Regions from separate parts of the Homo sapiens genome. Here region 2 is linked to region 1. The links come from fine-mapping of genetic effects on gene expression. A gene starts in region 1. The other region holds a variant in brackets. All regions are shown on one strand. Distances are between the middles of the regions.

What was found. PIP is the estimated chance that this variant, and not a neighbour inherited with it, causes the effect.
Region 2: its variant is the best candidate, but not a certain one, in a credible set for the expression of KRT32 in unexposed skin (GTEx, PIP 0.72).

The regions. Positions count from the first base shown.
Region 1 is chr17:41,464,864-41,470,243 of GRCh38, reverse strand. It overlaps KRT32 (keratin 32), which reads left to right and starts at 2,858. Exons shown (of 7, transcript NM_002278.3): 1 at 2,858-3,386; 2 at 4,068-4,150; 3 at 4,315-4,471. The coding sequence starts at 2,919. It also overlaps the pseudogene RNU2-32P.
Region 2 is chr17:41,391,806-41,397,185 of GRCh38, reverse strand. It overlaps KRT31 (keratin 31), which reads left to right. Exons shown (of 7, transcript NM_002277.3): 2 at 191-273; 3 at 610-766; 4 at 1,563-1,724; 5 at 1,816-1,941; 6 at 2,118-2,338; 7 at 3,017-3,465. The coding sequence ends at 3,170. Among named protein-coding and RNA genes, the nearest start is that of KRT31, 3.1 kb to the left of the region's middle. RefSeq lists enhancers at 2,652-3,151, 3,152-3,653. The variant G/A (reference allele first, on the strand shown) is at 2,339.

The sequences.
Region 1 (5,380 bases):
TCAACCCATCATCTAGGTTTTAAGCCCCGCATGCATTAGGTATTTGTTCTAATGCTCTCTCTCCCCTTGCCCCCCATCCCCCGACAGGCCCTGGTGTGTGATGTTCCCCTCCCTGTGTCCATGTGTTCTCATTGTTCAACTCCCACTTATGAGTGAGAACATGTGGTGTTCGGTTTTCTGTTCCTGTGTTGGTTTGCTAAGAATGATGGTTTCCAGCTTCATCCATGTCCCTGCAAAAGACACGAACTCATTCTTTTTTATGGCTGCATAGTATTTCATGGTATATATGTGCCACATTTTCTTTATCCAGTCTGTCATTGATGGGCATTTGGGTTGGTTCCAAGTCTTTGCTATTGTAAATAGTGCTGCAATAAACATACTTGTGCATGTGTCTTTATAGTAGAAAGATTTATAATCCTTTGGGTATATACCCAGTAATGGGATTGCTGGGTCAAATGGTATTTCTGGTTTTAGATCATTGAGGAATCACCATGCTGTCTTCCACAATGGTTGAACTAATTTACACTCCCACCAACAGTGTAAAAGCTTTCCCATTTCTCCACAGCCTTGCCAGCATCTGTTGTTACCAGACTTGTTAATGATCACCATTCTAACTGGCATGAGATGGTATCTCATTGTGGTTTTGATTTGCATTTCTCTAATGACCAGTGATGATGAGCTTTTTTTCATATGTTTCTTGGCCACATAAATGTCTTCTTTTGAGAAGTGCCTGTTCATATCCTTTGCCCACTTTTTGATGGGGTTGTTTGTTATTTTCTTGTAAATTTGTTTAAGCTCCTTGTAGATTCTGGATATTAGACCTTTGTCAGATGGGTAGATTGCAAAAATTTTCTCCAATTCTATAGGTTGCCTGCTGACTCTGATAACAGTTTCTTTTGCTGTGCAGAAGCTCTTTAGTTGAATTAGATCCCATTTGTCAACTTTGGCTTTTGTTGCAATTGCTTTTGCTGTTTTAGTCATGAAGTCTTTGCCCATGCCTATGTCCTGAATGGTATTGCCTAGACTTTCTTCTAGGGTGAAAACTCACATTTCTAACATGTTCCTGAGTCAGGTTGATGCTGAGAGTGACTGATAACACCTTATTATAATAATTATAGTTTTTGGGTGAGAGGATTAAATGGGCAAATTAATGCCAAGCACTCAGCACCATGCCTGGTATTTGTATACATTCCACAAGTGCTGGCTATGATTCTGAAGGGTGGCCTGATGAGTCTCATCCCTTGTAGTTGGTATTGCCATCACACCTCCTTCCATCTGATGCTATAATCTTCTCTAAATAGGTAATCCAGACAAGGTACTGGAATTTGTAGTTGTTGCAGAGAATCAAATTGTGAGAGTATTTGATCTGACCCCCTCGATTGGCATGAAGAAACTGAGGTCTGGAGAGACAAAATTACTTTCCCAAGGCCAAATGGCAAGTCAGAGGCAGTATATCTACGCTCTCCTTTTCTTATGCAATGAATGAGCTGGGTGGCATTTTCCCTTTCCTGTTCTTGTACTGACATTTCTGGGAATATGTGAAACATAAGGCAAGTACTTATACCCCAAAATTATATCAAGAAGATTACTGAATAAAAAAGTGGCTATATAGCACACACATACTAAATGTGAAGCTCACAGCTTTTGCAGCCAGGACTGAAAACCACTGCTCTAGCATGTTGCCTTCTTAAGTGAATGCCCAGGGCTTCTATAGTTGGGCAAATATGCTCCCTGTCTCCTGGCTTAGCTCATTCCAGGGCTATAGAACATCCTTTCCCAAGGGAGTGGATTCACACTGCTTCCATAGTCTGAGATCCTGAAGTGAGCCTTCCCCATCTGCCACAACAGAAAGTAAAAGTAGAACCTGTTCCAACTATTCTCAGTCTGTTCAACAAACAATTATTGAGCACTTGACAATTGTGTATATGGTGCAGTGATAATTGAATGGATGGTCCAGAGGGGGTCAAGACAGAGCAGCTGCCACCTGGAGATGTTCATGATATGGACTTTTCCAAGAGGAAGAGACCAACTGGAAAGATGTACCTGATTCTTAGGCTTCTGTTTGGGTCTTTTTTTTTTTTTTTTTTTTGCCTTTTGAAGGGGTGCAGCATTCCTGGAGGTACTGCAATACCAGGTCAACATGTAGAGTGAACAGAGCAAGCTCTTATTCCATCTCCCTGCTCCCAAAATCCATTTAATATGTTGTCCTCAGATGGAGGACGTATCAGATATTAAGACGATAAGAACAGATACCACACTTGATCTTAGCCAAAAGGCTGAGAAGTGATGCTGCCTATGTCTTGAGTTCATTCTCTCCCCACTGATATTATTTTCTTCCCCTTGGCAGGAAGATGATGTCTGTTAGGAAGCCTCTGAGGTTCCTGTTCCTTTCTGCTGGATTTATGCCGCTGCCAGCATCGGAGCAGTTTCTACCACCCACACATTTCCTTGTTAAATAGCCAGGCCTCTTCCCATGGGGAATGCTTTCATTAAAAGAGGCAGCCACTGCTGCACAGACCTGCAGGCTTCTCAGGGCTAGAGCAGGCGGGGGTGCAGTGGGCAAAGCCAGTGGAGGCACAGGCTGGGTTGTGGCAGTCTCCTGGAGGGCCTGCCCTAGTAATGAGGGCCCAGGCATGCGGCTGACCCTTTGAAGATGTGTCCTGAAGCTCTCTCATGGTGATCAATGACAGGAACCCAGACTCCTGCTTTAGCCAAATGATAAGTTTGGCCTCTTTTATTGGAAACCAAATTACAAATTAATTAGCAGCTTCCTCTGGGGCTGGGTGTGAACATCAACACCACCCAATGATGAATTTCTATCATGAGCCCCCTCACTGCAAGGGCATAAAATGGCCCGGGCGGCATGGGGTCTGTAGACATCCAGGTAGCTGTGGCTGAGGAGAAAGGGCCTCTCCAACATGACATCCTCCTGCTGTGTCACCAACAACTTGCAAGCCTCTCTCAAGAGCTGCCCCCGGCCTGCCTCGGTCTGTTCCAGCGGCGTGAACTGCCGGCCTGAGCTGTGCCTGGGCTATGTCTGCCAGCCCATGGCATGCCTGCCTTCGGTCTGCCTGCCCACCACCTTCCGGCCAGCCAGCTGCCTCTCCAAAACCTATCTATCCAGTTCCTGCCAGGCAGCCAGTGGCATCTCCGGCTCCATGGGCCCCGGCAGCTGGTACAGCGAAGGGGCCTTCAATGGCAATGAGAAGGAAACCATGCAGTTCCTTAACGACCGCCTGGCCAGCTACCTGACGAGGGTGCGGCAGCTGGAGCAGGAGAATGCGGAGCTGGAGAGCAGGATCCAAGAGGCCTCTCACTCCCAGGTGCTCACCATGACTCCTGACTACCAGTCTCATTTCAGGACCATTGAGGAGCTCCAGCAGAAGGTGAGGGCAGCGGTGAGGTGAATAGGCTCTCTGGGAAGGGAACTGGACTAGCTGGCATTCCAGATTGGAATCTCGTTAGCTTATTAAGCTATGTTCAGGACAAAGAGACTTCCCTAGGGCATAGGGTTATTTTATAATTTGAGCACTCAGCCTGAGGCTTTCATGTGGAGAGATCTGGGATCTAGTCTCAGTTCTACCATTGCCTCATTGCATGACTTTGGGGGTCCCATCCCTTCCCCAGGCCTCAGTTTTCTCATCTGTAAAACAGGGATAATAATGGTCGTTATCTAATGGGGTTGTCAAAAGGATTTGATGAGATGATGCAGGTCAAGTGCTTGGAACAGCCCCTGGTCCACGGTAAGTTTTCAGTAAATGTCAAAGACCCTTCTAACTGTCACATGAGTGACTTCAGACATGAGATTCTTCCCTTCCACATTGCTTGGCACATCCAAAATGGGGAATTTGAATTTACGAAGCTTCAGGTTCTTAAAAAATACATCTCAAGTTCTCCAAGGACTAGCAATTCGCTAAATATCTCCCAGAGTTCCAGGGAAGAGGACCTTCTGCAGGGATGGCTGCAGGGCTGCTGGATCCTACCTTTGCTGCTGTCTTCTCTTCATTTGGGTTCTTCTTGCTTCGTCTCATCCTGAACTAACCCTCTCCATGTGCCTTGGCCTACAGATTCTGTGTACCAAGGCAGAGAATGCCAGGATGGTTGTGAACATTGATAATGCCAAACTGGCTGCCGATGACTTCAGGGCCAAGTGAGTTCAGTCGGGGGGCTGGAGCTGGGGAGGACCTGTCCTCATAGGCTCTGGGGCAACTTTCCATTAGTTTCACGGAGGGTTGGAAAGTGCCGGCAGTTTAAGGCCTTCCCTGAGTTCTGCATTCTGTTTCACCCTTGGTTGCTGACCCTGTCCTTGTGCAGGTACGAGGCAGAGCTGGCCATGCGGCAGCTGGTGGAGGCCGACATCAATGGCCTGCGCAGGATCCTGGATGATCTCACTCTGTGCAAGGCTGACCTGGAGGCCCAGGTTGAGTCCCTGAAGGAGGAGCTGATGTGCCTCAAAAAGAACCATGAGGAGGTGAGGCTGGAAGTCCCGCTGAAGTGGCCCCGGGAAGCAGAGGGGGAGGAACGTGGGGTATGGGGTTGGATAGGCGTGGGTTGAAATTCCCAAGCCTGCCACATGTTGTTTTAGTGACTTTGCCCAATTTATGGAATCTTCCTGAGCCTCCTCTTCTGTAAAATGGGGACAACATGATCACGCAGGGTTATTGTGAGGATTTAATGGACAGGATATGGATCATGGAAATCCCCAAGGCATGGGTATGAAACACCTGCCACTTGGTCAACTCTCAGAAGTGTAGCCCCCTTCCCTTCTGCATTTCCTGGGCTAGTGTGACTGCCAAGCACTCACTAGTGGCAACTGCATTTTTTTCTCTCGAGAGCCACACAGCAGAGGTAGAGTGGTGCAGTGGTGCCGGGGTGAGTTATGTTCCAGATCTCACGTTGAATGGCCTGTCCATCTCTGCCTGGCTCAACTCTCAGAAGCAGTCCCATCTCTTCTGAGAGGGAGTACAGCTGCAGTGGTCTCCTCTTTTTGCCCCTATCCTTATTTTGTCCTCCCTTCTGTTTGCATATAAAATGCTCAAGCTGAAGCCCTTTACTTTCTGATTTTTCCTTATCTCCTGAAGTTTCTTGGAGGGGAAGCCCTCTGCTTTGGGCACCTGTGTGCTGCCAAGCCCACCTGAGCCATGGTGTTTTTCCCCCCTCCCTGGTTGACTCTCAACCTCTTGACTTGGGATTTGAATGAACAAGTGCCTCTGAATCTTGGCTGGGTTTCCTCAGGCTTAAGTGTAAAGTAACAATCAGTCACCACGTACTCACCGAGCACCCTCGGGCTCCTGACTCATCTTGCTCAAATCAGAGAACTGGGAACGGCACCAAGAAGCCACTAATGAGAAGTTATCACACATCCTGGCAGACTCAGTGA
Region 2 (5,380 bases), 73 kb after region 1:
GGCATTGCTGTCATCTCCAAGCAAGAGAGTTTGCTGTGATTCTGTCTGTGATAGAGAAGTGTGTTTCTTGCTTCTGTGCTGTCATAATTCTTGCTTCCTCTTTTATTTCAAAATGGCTTAAGTCATTTTTAAAAAGTTGATGATTTCATATTTATTTTCAGTCCTCACTAAGCCACCTCTCACTCCCCAGATCCTGTGTACCAAGTCTGAGAATGCCAGGCTTGTGGTGCAGATCGACAACGCCAAGCTGGCTGCGGATGATTTCAGAACCAAGTGAGTTGTTCGGAATTTGCACTAGTGTCAATTGCTTCTGTTTAATCTTTAAAGAAAAGGGATTTCCATCTGAAAACAGATCTACCCACTTGTTGTGAAGGATTCTGCAGAGGACTGGGGAGAACCAAGCAAAGAAATGCAAAAATGGATGAGGACTCACATCAATCTGTTTGTTTTGGGATGAATATTGGGTATTGATGGAGCCTCCAGAAACCTCTGTCTCCTGGGCCTATTCATTACAGAAAGTGGAAAGATAAGGCACATGAGGTTATCAAAAATCATTCCTGTGAGTCTTGAAGATCTACCAGGTAGTACTCTGACCCTGTCCTTGCGCAGGTACCAGACCGAGCTGTCCCTGCGGCAGCTGGTGGAGTCGGACATCAACGGTCTGCGCAGGATCCTGGATGAGCTGACCCTGTGCAAGTCCGACCTGGAGGCCCAGGTGGAGTCCCTGAAGGAGGAGCTGCTCTGCCTCAAGAGCAACCATGAGCAGGTGAGACTAGAAATGAGAAATGCACAAACCTGTCTCAGCCTCTGGCTCAGGGTTGCTTTAGTGATTTGGGGCAGCAGAATGCAGAGTATGAGTACAAGACTGAGGGTTTCCTTTGAAAACATCACGGTAAGAGAAAAATTGGAGAGAGATAAGACCTGTTCATGTTCCCAGACAGGAAACATCTTTCACTTTAAACTAGCACATTATTTGAGTTGCCCGGAGCAGCTCCATGTGCTTGCAGTTGATCAATAGTTGTAGAATGAGTCCTAGCATTGCAGTGTTATTGCTTTGTAAAGTCTTTTTTTTTTTTTTTTGGCAAAGGCCAAGAAAAAAAATATCAAACCTTATAAATGTGAGTCTCTACTCTTTCAAAGTATTGGTGAAGAGTGTTTGTGAGATTCTTCCTCTCTCTTGGGAGGGGCCATGACATGCTCTTACCTCTTACTTGACAGCAAGAGTTTTTTGATATATGGTCTGAAATTGCACAGCCTATTTTTTTTGGCATTCTGAGGTCCTCACAGCCAATTGTAAACTGGGAAAGTTGAATATCAATTAGTTCATCCTTCAGTGGCATCCAAGCAAACTTTTGGGATTTTTTTCTGAAGCCAAGTGCCATGGCACAGCAGATGGTGGGGAGGGGGCTATGCCACATGGAGTGCCTTGAGCTGTCACAAACTGCTCCACTCAAAGTTTCTTTTCCGAGAAAATAGACTAACAGGGTTTCAACAAGCAATGCCATTCCTTAGAGTTCATTCTTTGCTGAGCATAGTAACTCTTGTATTTTCTGCATCCATAGGAGGTCAATACCCTGCGCTGCCAGCTTGGAGACCGCCTCAATGTGGAGGTGGATGCTGCTCCCACTGTGGACCTGAATCGGGTGCTGAACGAGACCAGGAGTCAGTATGAGGCCCTGGTGGAAACCAACCGCAGGGAAGTGGAGCAATGGTTCACCACGCAGGTGGGCATCTAAGCACGTGGCCCCTCAGGACCCAAGGCCCCCCAGGGCCCCGGAGGCAGGGTCTGATCCTTTCTCCCCTTGGGTGTTTCAGACCGAGGAGCTGAACAAGCAGGTGGTATCCAGCTCAGAGCAGCTGCAGTCCTACCAGGCGGAGATCATCGAGCTGAGACGCACAGTCAACGCCCTGGAGATCGAGCTGCAGGCCCAGCACAACCTGGTGTGTATTGTTCAGACCTGCTGGTGAGCGACGGGAACTTGGGAGGCAGAGTCCCGGGGATGTGCTTGGGGCCACACACTCTCCTTAGCTCTTGGAGCTTGTGACTTCCTTGTAATCCTGTGAAGAAACCCTTTGAAGGAGCAGCTCTCTGACATTCCCAATCTTCTCCACCACAGCGAGACTCTCTGGAAAACACGCTGACAGAGAGTGAGGCCCGCTACAGCTCCCAGCTGTCCCAGGTGCAGAGCCTGATCACCAACGTGGAGTCCCAGCTGGCGGAGATCCGCAGTGACCTGGAGCGGCAGAACCAGGAGTACCAGGTGCTGCTGGATGTGCGTGCCCGGCTGGAGTGTGAGATCAACACATACCGGAGCCTGCTGGAGAGCGAGGACTGCAA[G/A]TGAGTACATGGGCAGACGTGTTTGATGAAATGATGCACGTGTGAGTGTAACAGTTAGACACCATGCAAATATTGCATACCTTGGAAAGGAAATTATGCCTTCACACTAGACATGCTCAAACAGAACTCAGACAACATAATATGGCCATCATTTAAAACATAAATGGTTTGGTAGCAAGAGTTGTTTGATGTACAAACTGAAATTGCACTGCCAAGTCTTTGCATTCTAGTATGATAATATGCATGACTGCATGATATGTGATCAATGCCTTACTTTTTACAATACTGTATTGCCTAGTGGGTACATTCCCATAGGCTACCTGATTTGATCTTATAATTACCACCAGGTGGGCTGGATCAGTATTCCCTCCATTCTACAGGAAAGTAAACTGGGGCTTGGAGAAGGTAAATGACTCACCCCATGTCATCAGTTTGGCATGAATGGATTTGAGAGTAGACATCAGAGTTTCAGAGTTTCTGTCTACCTTGGTGCTCTATGGCAGGGAGACCATTAACAATTTGAGTTAGTTATCTTTGTAGCAGGGGAGTCTGTGCCTTTTCTGTTCTAGGCCAGGTCAAGTCCCTTGACCCAGGCATTCTTACCCTTGGGGATATCTCTGGCATATGATTTTAAAATTGCCCTTAACTCACTTTTCCACATCATTCTTTTGTCTCCAGTCTGCCCAGCAATCCCTGTGCCACGACCAACGCGTGCAGCAAGCCCATCGGACCCTGTCTCTCCAATCCCTGTACCTCTTGTGTCCCTCCTGCCCCCTGCACACCCTGTGCCCCACGCCCCCGCTGTGGGCCCTGCAATTCCTTCGTGCGCTAGAACCTAGGGAATGCCAGAGGAGCAAGGATGCAGGGCCCAGGACTCCAGAGCTGTGACCTGGCTCTGGTTCAACAAAAGGGGCCTGAAAACATCATTTGCATGGCTGGAGTTGCCCGCGTAAGGCAGCCAAGAAACTCACCCAAAGCCTGTAGCCTCCCCAACTACTCCAGACTGTCCTGCTCACCCTTTCCTTCCTGGGGGTCTGTTCCTTCCTATGCTCACCCAGAGAACTCTCTGATGTGCCAGTGGGCCTCCCTTTTAACCTCCTAATAAATATCATTTCCTTGGCAAAGCAGATGCCTTTTTCATTTGTATTCATTTGTTTCAACGTGCTCATCACCTGAGTACGCTATAAAAAGCCACTTGAAAGACAGGCCATATAATGGCCTGACTCTTGGATACCAGAGCAGTTTCATGCCTCAGGGGAAGATGGTGAATCTGGTGCCCTGGACCCAGGAGCGAGGCAGGCAGGCCAGTGGGAAGGAGGGTGGAGGTGCTGAGTGCTGCAGTCCCTATCTCCCCTTAGCTATTCTTGGATTTCCCTTCTAACTTGGACATCTCCCAGAGCTGCTTGTATCCTATTCTGAATGGAGGAGGCATGAGCTGCGGGCTGGAAAGAAGCTCTGGAAAACTCATGTTCTTTCAGCAGGAGTTTCAGGTTCAGTGCTGTATTATTCTGGGTTATTGGTGGTCCAGGCATTTCCCAGCGAAGAAACCCTCTGACCTGCCCTGCTATACCCAGGAATTCCTCCTTTCCCTTGTGTGGGTTGATCATTATCAGCCTGGGCTTCCAGCTTCTGTCCTCCCTCCTCGACTCCAGGTCTTAGAGACCCCGTCAACTCTTTATTTGATCCTTTGGCCTTTCTCAATTCAATCCAACCAGTACCTGTTGAATACCTACTCTGTGCAGACGCTGGGTGGTGGGATGGGTAGAGACACATGAAGAAACACACAGTTCCTGACTGCAACTTACTGATAATTTGTTAAAAAACTAGTCCCCAAGTAGTGCTCTTATAAGGCCCAGTCCCCTGGCACTGTGAACAGCTGGTGGGTGCTAGAAGGAACTCTGAGTACCGAAAGGGACAATGCTGGTACCCAATGGCATTGGTGTTTATCAAGAAAGGGCATCTTTCTTTGACTCTCATGAAGACCCATGGAAGTGTTTAAGCATAGACCTCCCGAAAACATAGAGGGCCATTTTGATCTGAAGGGATCAGAGGTCTCTGACTTTTCCCACCACACCAGGCTTTCCCAGCGGGTATCAGACTCCACCTGGGTGAAACATAGTCCTGTGTCCTAAAATGATCAAGTGAATCGGAATTTTATATGTATATATATATATATATAAATATATATAAAAAATATATTTTTGTTTGTTTTCATAAAGCGATGATTCTCTCCACCATAATTTCTCCCTTGATTCTTCTTTTTAAAACTCAAGTTCCAGGATGGATTTGGATTTGTGCTTTGCTGCTTGGCTTGTGAGAAACCTCTGACCTGGAACTCTGTCTCTACTATGATTCACCCTGTGTCTGTGATTTCCTCCAAACCCAAGGTCAAGCTCAGTCCAGAGGCTCTCTCTCATGTTGCTTGTTTCTTTATTCCACATCCTGCTTATGTATATTATTTTACAATAATACAAAAGTACTGCTAATAGCTCCTGTGGTAGACAGAATAATTGTCCCCTCCATCCCTCATCAAAATGTTCATGTTCTAATTCCTGGAACCTGGGAATATGTTAGATTACATAAAAAAGGAAATCGAAGTTGCAGATGGAATTAAAGTTGCTAATCAGCTGACTTTACGATAGGGAGATTATCTCGGATTATCAGGTGGACTCAGGGTTCTTAAAAGTGGAAGAGGGAGGCAGAAGAGTGAGAAGGTGATGAAACTATGGACCCAGGTCAGAGTGATGTGATGTGAGAAGAACCTGCCTTGTCCTTGCAGGATTTGAAGATGGAGGAAGTGGGTCATGAGCCAAAGAATGCAGGTCATCTCTAGATCTTGGAAAAAGCAAGGATTCTCCTCTAGACCCTTTAAAGAGAAACGTAACCTTGCCAGACCTCTGATTTTATTTTTATTGTGGTAAAATATGTACAACATAAAATTTACCATTTTAGCCATTTTTAATGTACAATTCAGGGGCATTAAGTACATTCACATTGTTGAACCCTATGCACAGATTCCCACTAATTTTTGGCAAGTCTCTT